Linked DNA regions of Homo sapiens. The protein of the gene in region 2 purifies or fractionates together with the protein of the main gene of each other region. This does not show direct contact. Each region holds a gene or a part of one and is shown on either strand. Other genes may lie near its edges. The genes, in order: KLHL15, ZNF444 and SCAND3.

Region 1 (3,751 bases), on a different chromosome or scaffold from region 2:
GGGCGCGTGGTGGCAGGCGCCTCAGGAGGCTGAGGCAGAGAAGTGCTTGAACCTGGGAGGCGGAGCTTGCGGTGAGCTGAGTCCATGCAACTGCACTCCAGCCTGGGCAACAGAGTGAGACTCCATCTCCAAAAAAAAAAAAAAGATTTTTTAAAAGCTTTGTAGAAAACAAAAGAAAGTAGGTGATCTTAGCAGGAAAAGCAGTTTTAGTAAAGTGAGCCTAAGATGATCGTATTAGTCAGCTTTGATAATTTGTTTGCAGCTGATGCTTTTTCCTTTGGTTAAATTCTTTTTCTTGTGTTCTTAGGTTAAGACATCAGAATTTTATAGATACTCCCGACAGCTCCGTTACGAAGTTGACCAAGCATTGAATTACTTTCAGAATGTTCACCAGCAGCCTTTGTTGGATATGAAGTCAAGCCGCATCCGTTCTGCAAAACCGCAAACTACAGTATTTCGAGGAATGATTGGACATAGCATGGTTAACAGTAAAATACTTCTCTTAAAGAAACCAAGAGTCTGGTGGGAGCTAGAAGGCCCACAAGTACCTCTGCGACCTGACTGCCTTGCTATCGTCAATAATTTTGTGTTCCTGTTAGGCGGGGAAGAGCTGGGCCCGGATGGTGAATTCCATGCTTCTTCCAAAGTATTCAGGTATGACCCGAGACAGAACTCCTGGCTGCAGATGGCAGATATGTCTGTACCACGCTCTGAATTTGCTGTAGGTGTTATTGGGAAGTTTATTTACGCCGTAGCAGGCAGAACCAGAGATGAGACTTTCTATTCAACTGAGAGATATGACATCACCAACGATAAATGGGAATTTGTGGATCCTTATCCAGTTAACAAATATGGACATGAGGGGACAGTGCTCAATAACAAATTGTTTATCACCGGTGGAATCACCTCATCTTCCACCTCCAAGCAAGTGTGCGTGTTTGACCCCAGCAAAGAAGGGACCATAGAACAACGGACCAGGAGAACTCAAGTGGTTACCAACTGTTGGGAGAATAAGAGCAAGATGAATTACGCGAGATGCTTTCACAAGATGATTTCTTACAATGGCAAGCTTTATGTCTTCGGTGGTGTCTGTGTGATCTTGAGGGCCTCTTTCGAATCTCAGGGATGCCCTTCTACAGAAGTATACAACCCAGAGACTGATCAGTGGACCATCTTGGCATCCATGCCGATTGGTAGAAGTGGCCATGGTGTGACTGTGCTGGACAAACAAATAATGGTTCTTGGAGGCCTTTGTTATAATGGTCATTACAGCGATTCCATCCTCACTTTTGATCCGGATGAAAACAAGTGGAAGGAAGATGAGTACCCTCGGATGCCCTGCAAGCTGGATGGTTTACAAGTATGCAACCTGCATTTTCCGGACTATGTACTGGATGAGGTCAGGCGTTGCAACTAATGACATCCTCCTCCCTAAAAAAAGAGGCAAACAAAGTATTTGTTTGCACAGAGTAATTAATTAAAACATATAAAGAAAAACCTCACCAGTTTTACTATCAAAGCCATTGGTCTAACATTGTAAGAATTTTTCATTCTGTGCTAGCATCCTTTTTTTCTTTTCAGTGGCCTCAAACTCATGCAATAAGTTAATTCTAAGTGCTAGCTCTTGAAACTACTTCCAGAAGCAGTTGAATAGAATGCTCCACTTATCTGGGATATTGATTTTCTGCTTTAAACATTTCTTTCAGATGTTAGCGTAGGAGTCATGTGTCTTCTAAGAGAAGACCCGATAAGTGTCACTGGATGTGATTTCAGTCTCTGTCTCTATCTGAAACCTTTTTGAAGATTTATTTCAGTGTATTTCAGTCTGTTATACTTTTTAGTTTTATTATTTAAAAGTTTAAAACTCTTGACCTTTTTGCATGGCTTTTTGCTGAAAATGCAAAAATATAAATTTTCTACAAAATTAACTTTTTATATTCAAAACACTATTTCTAAGCTGCCTTCTCTTATCCGCATTGTGTTAGTGAAAGCATATTCATACTCGCATACAACCTATAAATACACAAGGCACATCCCTTTTATGCGTGGTTAGGATTCTATATTTTTAAGCTAGTGCACTTACTTGCACACACAGTTCGCCATACTTGTTGAATTTTAGATGTAACGTCTTTTCACATATTAACATTTTTAGAAAGTTGAAATAACTGGAGTCCTCATTTGCTATCAAAGTAGCCTATCTTCAGTCCATACTGATTCAGTAATATTTGAACTCCTTATATTTCTGAAACATGTATGGTTATGAAAACTAACACTTTATATTTTATTTTCAAAAGTAAATGTTAGTGTTCTTTGTCGATGTATGTCTTTTCTTTTTGAAAATGTTTTTCTTTGCAGTCTGTTTAACGTTACCCTGTTTTTAGTGAGAATCGGAGTGGTATATGACAAGTTCTGGCCCTGCAGCATGCAAGCACTTTTAAAGAGCATTTAGGTAATACCAGACTCCTAAATCAAGGCCCCTTAAAAGTAAGTGCAACTCCCATTTTTTACATTCAGTAAGGCTGCTGCATTTGTTATTGAATGGAAGGTAGAAACTCTTAGAAAATTTGACCTCAGTTTTGACTTAGAGGTAAGAAATAGAATTATAATGTTACTGGTTTTATCTACTTGTTTATTTTGTACAAAATACCCAGCGACACTAGGGATGTAAGCCCTCAGTTTTTGTTTTATTTACTGAAAGCTATTAGCATGAAGGATAGTAACCACAAAGTTCAGAATGGATCAAGAATAGCTGTTTAAAAGCATTTATAATAAGTGTTTTAGGATTAGCTGCACCTTTCAACTCTTTAAATGCAGAGGAAAAAACATAGTTGACAAAGTTAAGCAAGAATAACCTGGGAGTGGATCATTGAAATTGATGCCATTTGCGCATGAGTAGTCTATATCTGATACAGACTAGATCTATACTGGCAAAACTTGCCAGATCTTAGAATATTGGTGCAATATTGCAATGCCTTCTATATGGCTGCTGATGTATAAATTTTCTAGTTTCACTTTGTTTGGTGTTTTTTGTTTTTTTGTTTGTTTGTTTGTTTTTTTGCTGCTGCCACCATTGAACATAAAATGGAAGTGTGAAGTCATGGAAATGTGAAGACTTTGGTTTTTGGGGGTTTTTTGGGCAGTTATTAGACATACTATGAGATTAAACCTGATCTTCAAACTCCAGAATTGGAGGCATTTGGGTTTAAGAAACCAGGTACATAAGTAGCTTTTGAAAAAACCATTGGCATTGATTTCAAAAATCAATAATAATCTTATTTTATATATGAGACTTATATTTTCATTAACTAGTCCTGTCATTTACTTACAGTTTCCAAACATGAAATTTGGTATCTTGTTTCCCATGGTAATATGGGTAAAAGTCTTTTTCTACATTTAAAAAATACATTATTTTATTTTTGAAAGTTAGGAATAAGTTAGCCATTTAATTTTTTTCTACATTAGTTTAGTGGCTTTGTATGTGTGCTATTTTGCTTTAAAGAAAATAACGTCTTCATTATTTTCCTCATTGATGTCTTTTGCTAGAAAAGACCAAGAAAGAGCCATCAGGCCAGGTATCCACATCAAAGCCTTTACACTATAGTGGTGGTTCTCTTTAATTGCTTAGATATGACTTCATGACCCTAGTCAGGGTGACATCTGGGCAAACATTTGAGTATTCTTGGTCTTCCATTTTAAAGACAGAGGCCAAGATCAAAGTTCATGTTTTGTAAAATTCGTAAAATCTTAACTT
Region 2 (3,751 bases):
TGCACTCCAGCCTGGGCAACACAGCCAGACCCTGTATCAAAAAACAAAACAAAACAAAACAAAAAACCAAAAAAAAAAAAAGAAAAAAGAATCAAGGGCTGCTTTTCTATTTTTGGCCTCAACATTTGGGTGAAGATGGACTTGCTTTCTAAGATGGTGGAGTAATGGGAAGGAACAAATTTCTTCGCAAGGTGGGGGAGAGAGTGAAAAATTATCTACTGCCCACCTTAGGTTTGAGATGCCTATTAAGAAATCCAAGAGGAGATGTCAAGTAGGCCATCGGATATGAGTGGGAAGAAGATCAGCGTGCTCTAGGAGCAGAAAGGAGGCATGACTGGAACTCATTAAACACGAGGAGAAGACAGTGGTAGACAGGTGGGCCAGGGCAGATTAGGCCACCGTGGGCAAACTGGTCACAAAGTTCTGAGTCAGCCACTCATCGCTTGTGAAACCTGGGGAAAGTTGTTCATTTATGAATATAAGACGAACAACTTCCATGTAATGAATGCTTGTTATGGGTAAGCCACTGTCTTCGTTTTTATGGCGCGGAGTCTTCAGATCAGCCGGGGAGGTGGAGGATGGGAGGGGGATTCTCTTATCCTTGTTGTACGGAGGAGGAAATACGCTGCGGGCTGGGGTAGGGCTTGTATGAGCCATAATCAGGTCTGGAACTGTCTAGATAAAAACTTCAGCTGATCTCTTAGGATGTCTGTCTGCTCTAAAATCCAAATATGCTTCTTCACAGTTCTGAGATGCAGAAACTGAGGCCTCAGGACGGGGCAGTAGTCTGTCCAATAGGGGCACAGCGAGGACGCGTGGCAGGTAGCGCTGTCCCCCAATTCACCCCAGGGGAAACTGAGGCTAAAGAGAGGGCGGTGTCCTGTCCAGGTTCACACACAGGAAGAGCCAAACCGAGGCCCCCGCGCTGGCCCCCTCCTGAGCCACTGCCCACCCCGGAACAGGAGGGCAGCCTGCTCACGTCCTGATTCCTGGCACCGACATCGGCCCTTAAGTTCTGCCCGGGTGGAGAGGGAGGACAAAAAAAAATGCGATCCGTAGTCAAGGAGACGTAGCCTGCACTCCTGATTGGCGCAGAACTCTAGCCTGGTCTCCTCCTCCTCCTCCTCTTCGCTTGCCAGCTTCTAGAGCTCCGGAGGCCCCACCTCCCAAATGCCCGGCGGTGCCCGGCCTCCCCTGATCTCCACAACAACGCCGCCATGGCTCCTCCTCCTCCTCCCTCTTTTTTTCCCGGCACTTCTGCGCATGTCCAGGGCCCGCGCGCAGACCACTGGGAAGCCTCCTCGTGCATTCTGGGAAATGTAGTCCAAAGCCTGTCGCGCTCAGACAGCCCGCGACATTTGCGCCGTCAAGGCCAAATAGGCTGCAGACGACGCTTTCGCGTATCTTGGGAAATGTAGTTCCAGTGTTGGCGAAGACGCCACGCGGTGACAAACAGGAGTAAGGCGGTCCCCAGGCGAGGGCCAATTGGCAGCCGCCTTTGCCGCGATGCTTCCTGGGAGTTGTAGTTCGGGGTGAGGCCGGGGCTTCATGGGGAGTTGTTGGGCTGAACGAGCGGCTCGGAGTATGGGATTGGGGGAGGGGGACGGGGGAGTTTGGCGCAAAGCCTGCTGGGGCATGGAGTCCCGGCGAGCTTTGTGCGCATGTGCGGGGAGGTGAGGGGGCTTGGGGGGCCTCGCCTGAGAGAGTGAGGTGAGCGAGGGGGGAAGGAGGGAGGGATTGGGTGGGGGCGGTTGGACGAGGGAGGGACCAGAGGTTGGATGGGAAGAGGGGCGCCGGGGGCCTCAGGAGGGAAAGATGGGAGACTTGCGGGGAGGGGAGGAGAAGGGGGCTGAGTGATGGGGAAGGGGCTGGGAGAGGGAACTAGAGGGGGAGGGACTTGGAGAGGGGGAGGGGTGGATAGTGGGAGGGGGTCGTGGATCCTCGAGGTCCTGAACGCGGGAGAGAAATGCTGAGGGAGAGGACGGGGGAGGGGCGCCTGGGGGAGGGGGAGGGGCGGGACGGGGGAGGGACAGGTGGGGGAGGGGAAGGGGACCCTAGCAGAGGGTGGGCTGTGAGATGAAAGCTGAGTGGGAAGCTGGACCCTACAAAGGAGTCTGGGGGCGCCGGGACCGGACCCCTTCGGAAAGGTTTGCGGGAAGGGGCTTCCGGGGACGATGGTTATTGTTGTAACGTAGATACGGCGCAGGTGGCTCGTTTTGCGCGCTGCTTCTACAAGTGCAACTTTTACAGAGTTGTGAGATTCCTGAAGATAAGAATCGTTGCTCTGTTTTGCTGCTTTCTCAGTGCGGAGCATCTGCCTTTTTAGCTTGTTGCAAGGCATTATTACCTTCGGTAATATGTGTAAAGTGCTTAGAAACTCTGTTTATTGTCAAATGAAGTTGACCCCCGCCACCTCTACCCCAGTCAGGATGGAGTCACCCTCCTCTATATCCGATTTTAACGCCTATTCCAATGTATACTTAGTATTTTAATCTGCGTGCGTGTTCATAGCAGTGTCCCCTGGGCACCTCGCAGGGAAACTTCGACAAAGTAACCCTAAGTCTGACTGGACACTTACTAGCCAGGTGTGGTTCTCAGCATTTTTGTTCTCCTTCTATCACTTTACAGTCAACGAAATGGAGATACAGGGTATTACAAAAGGTGCCTTGTACCTCGTCCAAGGACACAGAGCTGGTAGGAGGCAGAGCTGGAATTTGCCCCAGAGCCTTTGTGCCGTAGGTAAATATTTGTCCAGTGGGCCAGCGGCTCTCAACCAGGAGTGGTTTTGTCCCCCAGGGGACATGTGGCAATGTCTGGAGACTTTTTTTTTGGTTTTTCCAACTTGGGAAGTGCTACTGGCATCTCATGAAAAGAGGCAGAGATGCTGGTAGACATCGTATGTTGCACAGGATAGCCCGCCACGACACAAGTGCCATTAATGTCGAGGTTGGGAACCTAGAGTAGACAAACCGGTCTTTGTCGAGCACTTAGCCTTTGGAGGCTGCTTCTAACTCCTGCTCCCAGCAGCCTCTTGAGAGGAAGGAGCTCTTGTTAGTCCTGTGTCTCAGGTGGAGAAATGAAGCACAGAGGGGGTAAGTCACACGTCCACAGTCACACTGCTGATGAGTGGCAGAGCTGGAAGTTGAAGCCAGGCAGCCAGACTCCACAGCCTCTTAGCCATGATATTAACCCAGCATATGTGGGTGCTGGTGCCGGGGTACTAGGTGGAACTGGTGTGGACTCTGGAGTCACATCTGGGTCCCATTTGTGGCTCCTTCACTCTCTGAGCATCTCCCTATGGTAAGAGGGGACCCATCTCCCCAGCTCACAGGTCTGTTGGGAAGGTTGGGTGGGGCAGTATAAGACACTAGCCACTCAGTGGCTGTCTTCAAGGCATCCAGGGTGCCTGGCTCTGGACTGGACTGTGCTTTGCGGACACAGACAGCTAGACAGCAGGGTTACAGCTGTTGAATGCACATAGCACAGGGCGCTCATTGGATGGTAGGGTGGATTGACATGGTGGAAGGCCCTTACTTAACAGCATGTGCTTTCTTGGGAGCAGGCCTTGTGCTGGATGGCCCCACCGACCCAGTGAAGAGCTGGACTTGGTCACTGCCCCAGAGAGCTCACTTTCTGGACAGCCCAGGGTGTAGTGACCTGTGATCACCTCTGAGATTGCAAACAGGGTCAGCTTGATGGCCTGTGGCATTGCTCTCTGGCGGAAATTCCTCCTTAGTCCCAGAGGGATCTT
Region 3 (3,751 bases), on a different chromosome or scaffold from region 2:
GTGATACACCAAGCCACCCTCCAGTAGTCACTGAGCTTTCCTCAAATATCACAGTTCTCATTTTACCTCCCAATACAACTTCTTTACTGCAGCCCCTTAATCATGGTGTGATTGCAATCTTTAAAGCTTATTATTTAAAGCAAACATTCAAGATATTGGTTGCCTATACAGGGGGTGACAGTGCCCTAACATTTTTTGAATTCTGTAAATGATTCAACATTAAACTTATTATTGATATTATTGTAGAGGCCTGGAATGATTTCACAAAAGCCTGTTTGCACGGGGTGTGATATACAATTCTCCCTGATTTAATTTATGATTCCAAAGCCTTTGAGCCTTCAGAAGATCTCCCCAAAACCAACCCAAGCTGTATCGCTCTTGCAAAGGGGGTTGGATTTGAAGAAGTTGCTAGTGAGGATAATGCGGAGCTGCTGCAATCTGACACACAGGATCTTTCTACAGAAGAGCTGCAAGTTAGTTGCTGAGGCACAAATGGAAGGTGTGGAGGAAGAAGAACATGCAGTTCCACAAGCTACAAGCTGCCTCCCAAGAGCTTTTCACTTCTCAGTTATCTTCTGCTTCAAGTATGATAGAGAAGCAGTTGGAGTAGATAAAAGATAATGACTACAATGCAGAACGCAGCATGATTTCACTTCATGACATAAAGCCCTAATTGGACCCATATAAACAGCTTCTTTATGAAAGAAGGAAAGTGTTAAAACAGCAAACACTGGGTATCTTTTTATAAGCCAGTGTCAAATAAATAAAAACAAGATGATAAACGGGAACCCACATCATGTTTCTTGTAGTATCACTATATCCAAGGGTGGAAGAATATAACATCAAATGTTCAAGCGTCTTCACTTGGATTTTTGATGATTATATCTTTCCACCTTTGAATTGTTGTTGTTGTTGTTTGTTTGTTTGTTTGTTTTGAGACAGAGTCTCGCTCTGTCCCCTGGGCTGCAGTGTAGTGGCACGATCTCGGCTCACTGCAAGCTCTGCCTCCGGGGTTCAGTCATTCTCCTGCCTCAGCCTCCCGAGTAGCTGGGACTACAGGCGCCCGCCACCACGCCCGGCTAATTTTTAGTAGATACGAGGTTTCACCGTGTTAACCAGGATGGTCTCAGTCTCCTGACCTCGTGATCCGCCCACCTCGGCCTCCCAAAGTGTTGGGAATACAGGCGTGAGCCACCGTGCCCGACCCACCTTTGAATTTTTGATGATTATATCCTTCCACCCTTGCCCCCCCTTTCCTCACACTTGTTTCTAACAAGATAACATCACCTTTCTAAGGTAAAATCCTATACTTAAAGTAAGATTTATTAATGTCTTATATTTTTACTAGAGTTTTTATAGTGTTTTTTATTTTATTTTATTTTTATTTTTATTTTTTGAGACGGAGTCTCACTCTGTCCCCAGGCAGGAGTGCAGTGGCAGGATCTTGGCTCACTGCAACCTCTGCCTCCCTGGTACAAGCGATTCTCCTGCCTCAGCCTCCTAAGTAGCTGGGATTTACAGGCAAGCGCCACCACGCCCAGCTAATTTTTGTATTTTTAGTAGAGACGTGGCTTCACCATGTTGGCCAGGATGGTCTCGATCTCTTGATCTCATGATCCGCCCGCGTCAGCCTCCCAAAGTGCTGGGAGTACAGGCGTGAGCCACCGTGCGCCAGCCGGGAGTTGTTATAGTTTTAATAATGCTCTAGTGACAAAGTTGTGTAGGTGTTAAAATAGTCCACCCTTTAACCGTATTTTCCCCATAAATCCTGTCACTTTTCTGCAGTTTTGCAGAAAGCATGTTTTTTTAATACATTCATATGTTATGTTGCAGCACAAATGCCTATATAAGCAGTTTCTCACGTCTAGTCAGCACACCCTTTTCTCTTTGCTTTAAATAACAAATACTGTAGTTTTTTTCCCCCTTAAGATATGCCTGTTACTTTAGAATAGGGGTATCCAATCTTTTGGCTTCCCTGGGCCATATTGGAAGAATAATTGTCTTGGGCCACACTAAAATACACTAACACTAACGATTGCTGATGAGCTTAAAAAAAATCACAAAACAATCTTACAATGTTTTAAGAAAGTTTACAAGATTGTGTTGGGCCACATTCAGAACTGTCCTGGGCTGCAAGTGGCCTGCAGGCTGCAGGGTGGATAAGCTTGCTTTAAAATTTCCCCTTCTAGCTTTGTTGAAAAATGTAGCTTCTGGTAGGACTTGGTGTTTGGTCAGTTCCTTGGGTATTGTTCAGGTTATACGCTGATCATGTTTGATAGTTTTTTTAATGTGGTCAGAGTTATAAATATCTCTTAGTGTTGTTGAATATCAAGTTTGTATAAATGTTTCTCATTTTTCTTGTTTTTGTGTGATTTCCCCCACAGGGGAAATACCACTGGCAGACACTTTTAGCTGCCAACCCAGTGTCTATTCTACCCTTCTTTCCTCCCGACAAAATGTTGGTTTTGTTCATACTGGCAATATATCTAATTAAATTCTTTTCCAGGCTTCCTTGTTCTAGAGTTAACTATGCAACAGAATTCTGGCCAGGGAGAAATAAGCATATTTCGGGGAGGAGGTTCCTGGGGAAGCTTTTATTTTCCTGATAGGATAGGGGAGATTACTTTAGTTTCACCTTTTCTCACTTCCAGTCTTGAACACTAATATGATATCTGGCCATCTTCTGACCATTAAGTGATGGTAAGCATGAGGCCAAATGCTAGTGTTAAAAGTGACAGAGCAGAAATATGAAGACAGCTAGGGTCCCTGAAAAACTGTTAGATAAATGAGTTGGTGCCAGCAACTACCTTCTTCTAGGCTTCTTGTTATGTAACAAAAATAAACCCCTATTTGTTTGTGCCACTGTAAGTTAGATGTTCGAATTTATTGGAAATATGTGCATTTCTAATGAACACAGCAATATTTACTCTACCATATTACAACCAAAAGTTTCTTTCCAGCATTTTTATTTATTTATTTGAGATGGAATCTCACTCTGTCACCCAGGCTGGAGGGCAGTGGCACGATCTTGGCTCACTGCAACCTCCACCTCCCAGGCTCAAGCAATCTGCCTTCCTCAGCCTCCTGAGTAGCTGGGACCACAGATATGTGCTACCATGCCTGGCTAATTTTTTGTATTTTGGGCAGTGATGAGGTTTCACTATGTTGCCCAGGCTGGTCTCGAATTCCTGAGCTCAAGCAATCCTCCCACCTCGGCCTCCCAAAGTGCTGAGATTACAGATGTCAGCTACTGCACTCAGCTTCTTTCCAGCGTTAAAAAAAATCAAACCCAGGAATTGAATACTGAAAGACTAATGACTGTCATGACCAGTTTGAAGTAACTTCAGTTTTGTAATTTATTACCACTACCCAAGGTACTCTTCAAACTTCTGTGGTAGAGGCAGAAGTGGAGTTCCTCCCGGTTCTAAGACCAGGCCCACCCATTTTGGTCTAGTCCAGCTGGTGGAAAAGTAGAGGAATCAAGAGACTAGATTTGTGTTTGTGCTTGGGGGGGTGGGGGGGTGGGGGAGAGTCAGTGAATAATTCAGCACAATGAACCATATCCATATTTTGTTTCTTAGTTGCTCCAAAAGCTGGGATTGTGTATACTAACATTACAGAATTGATACATTGTTTAATTATAAACAGCAGGTGGCCCTCTTTCACAGATTCTGTTTCTGGCAGTTATGCAAAGATTTAGACAAATTGAAATGCATGCTATTATATTATACAAAGCAATTTACATAAGATA

What was found.
Region 1: the proteins of ZNF444 (region 2) and KLHL15 purify together in Homo sapiens (affinity purification with mass spectrometry; 2 studies listed by BioGRID and IntAct, with this or other methods). This does not show direct contact.
Region 3: the proteins of ZNF444 (region 2) and SCAND3 purify together in Homo sapiens (affinity purification with mass spectrometry; 3 studies listed by BioGRID and IntAct, with this or other methods). This does not show direct contact.

What each region holds. Positions count from the first base shown.
Region 1 is NC_000023.11:23,985,587-23,989,337, reverse strand, and holds part of KLHL15 (kelch-like protein 15), read left to right. Parts: intron 1-307; coding exon 308-1,417; 3' UTR 1,418-3,751. UniProt on the Homo sapiens protein: Substrate-specific adapter for CUL3 E3 ubiquitin-protein ligase complex.
Region 2 is NC_000019.10:56,139,648-56,143,398, forward strand, and holds the start of ZNF444 (zinc finger protein 444), read left to right. Parts: upstream 1-1,639; 5' UTR 1,640-1,710; intron 1,711-2,050; exon of another isoform or gene 2,051-2,585; intron 2,586-2,628; exon of another isoform or gene 2,629-3,751. UniProt on the Homo sapiens protein: Transcriptional regulator. Binds to the 5'-flanking critical region of the SCARF1 promoter.
Region 3 is NC_000006.12:28,580,566-28,584,316, reverse strand, and holds part of SCAND3 (SCAN domain-containing protein 3), read left to right. Parts: intron 1-3,751.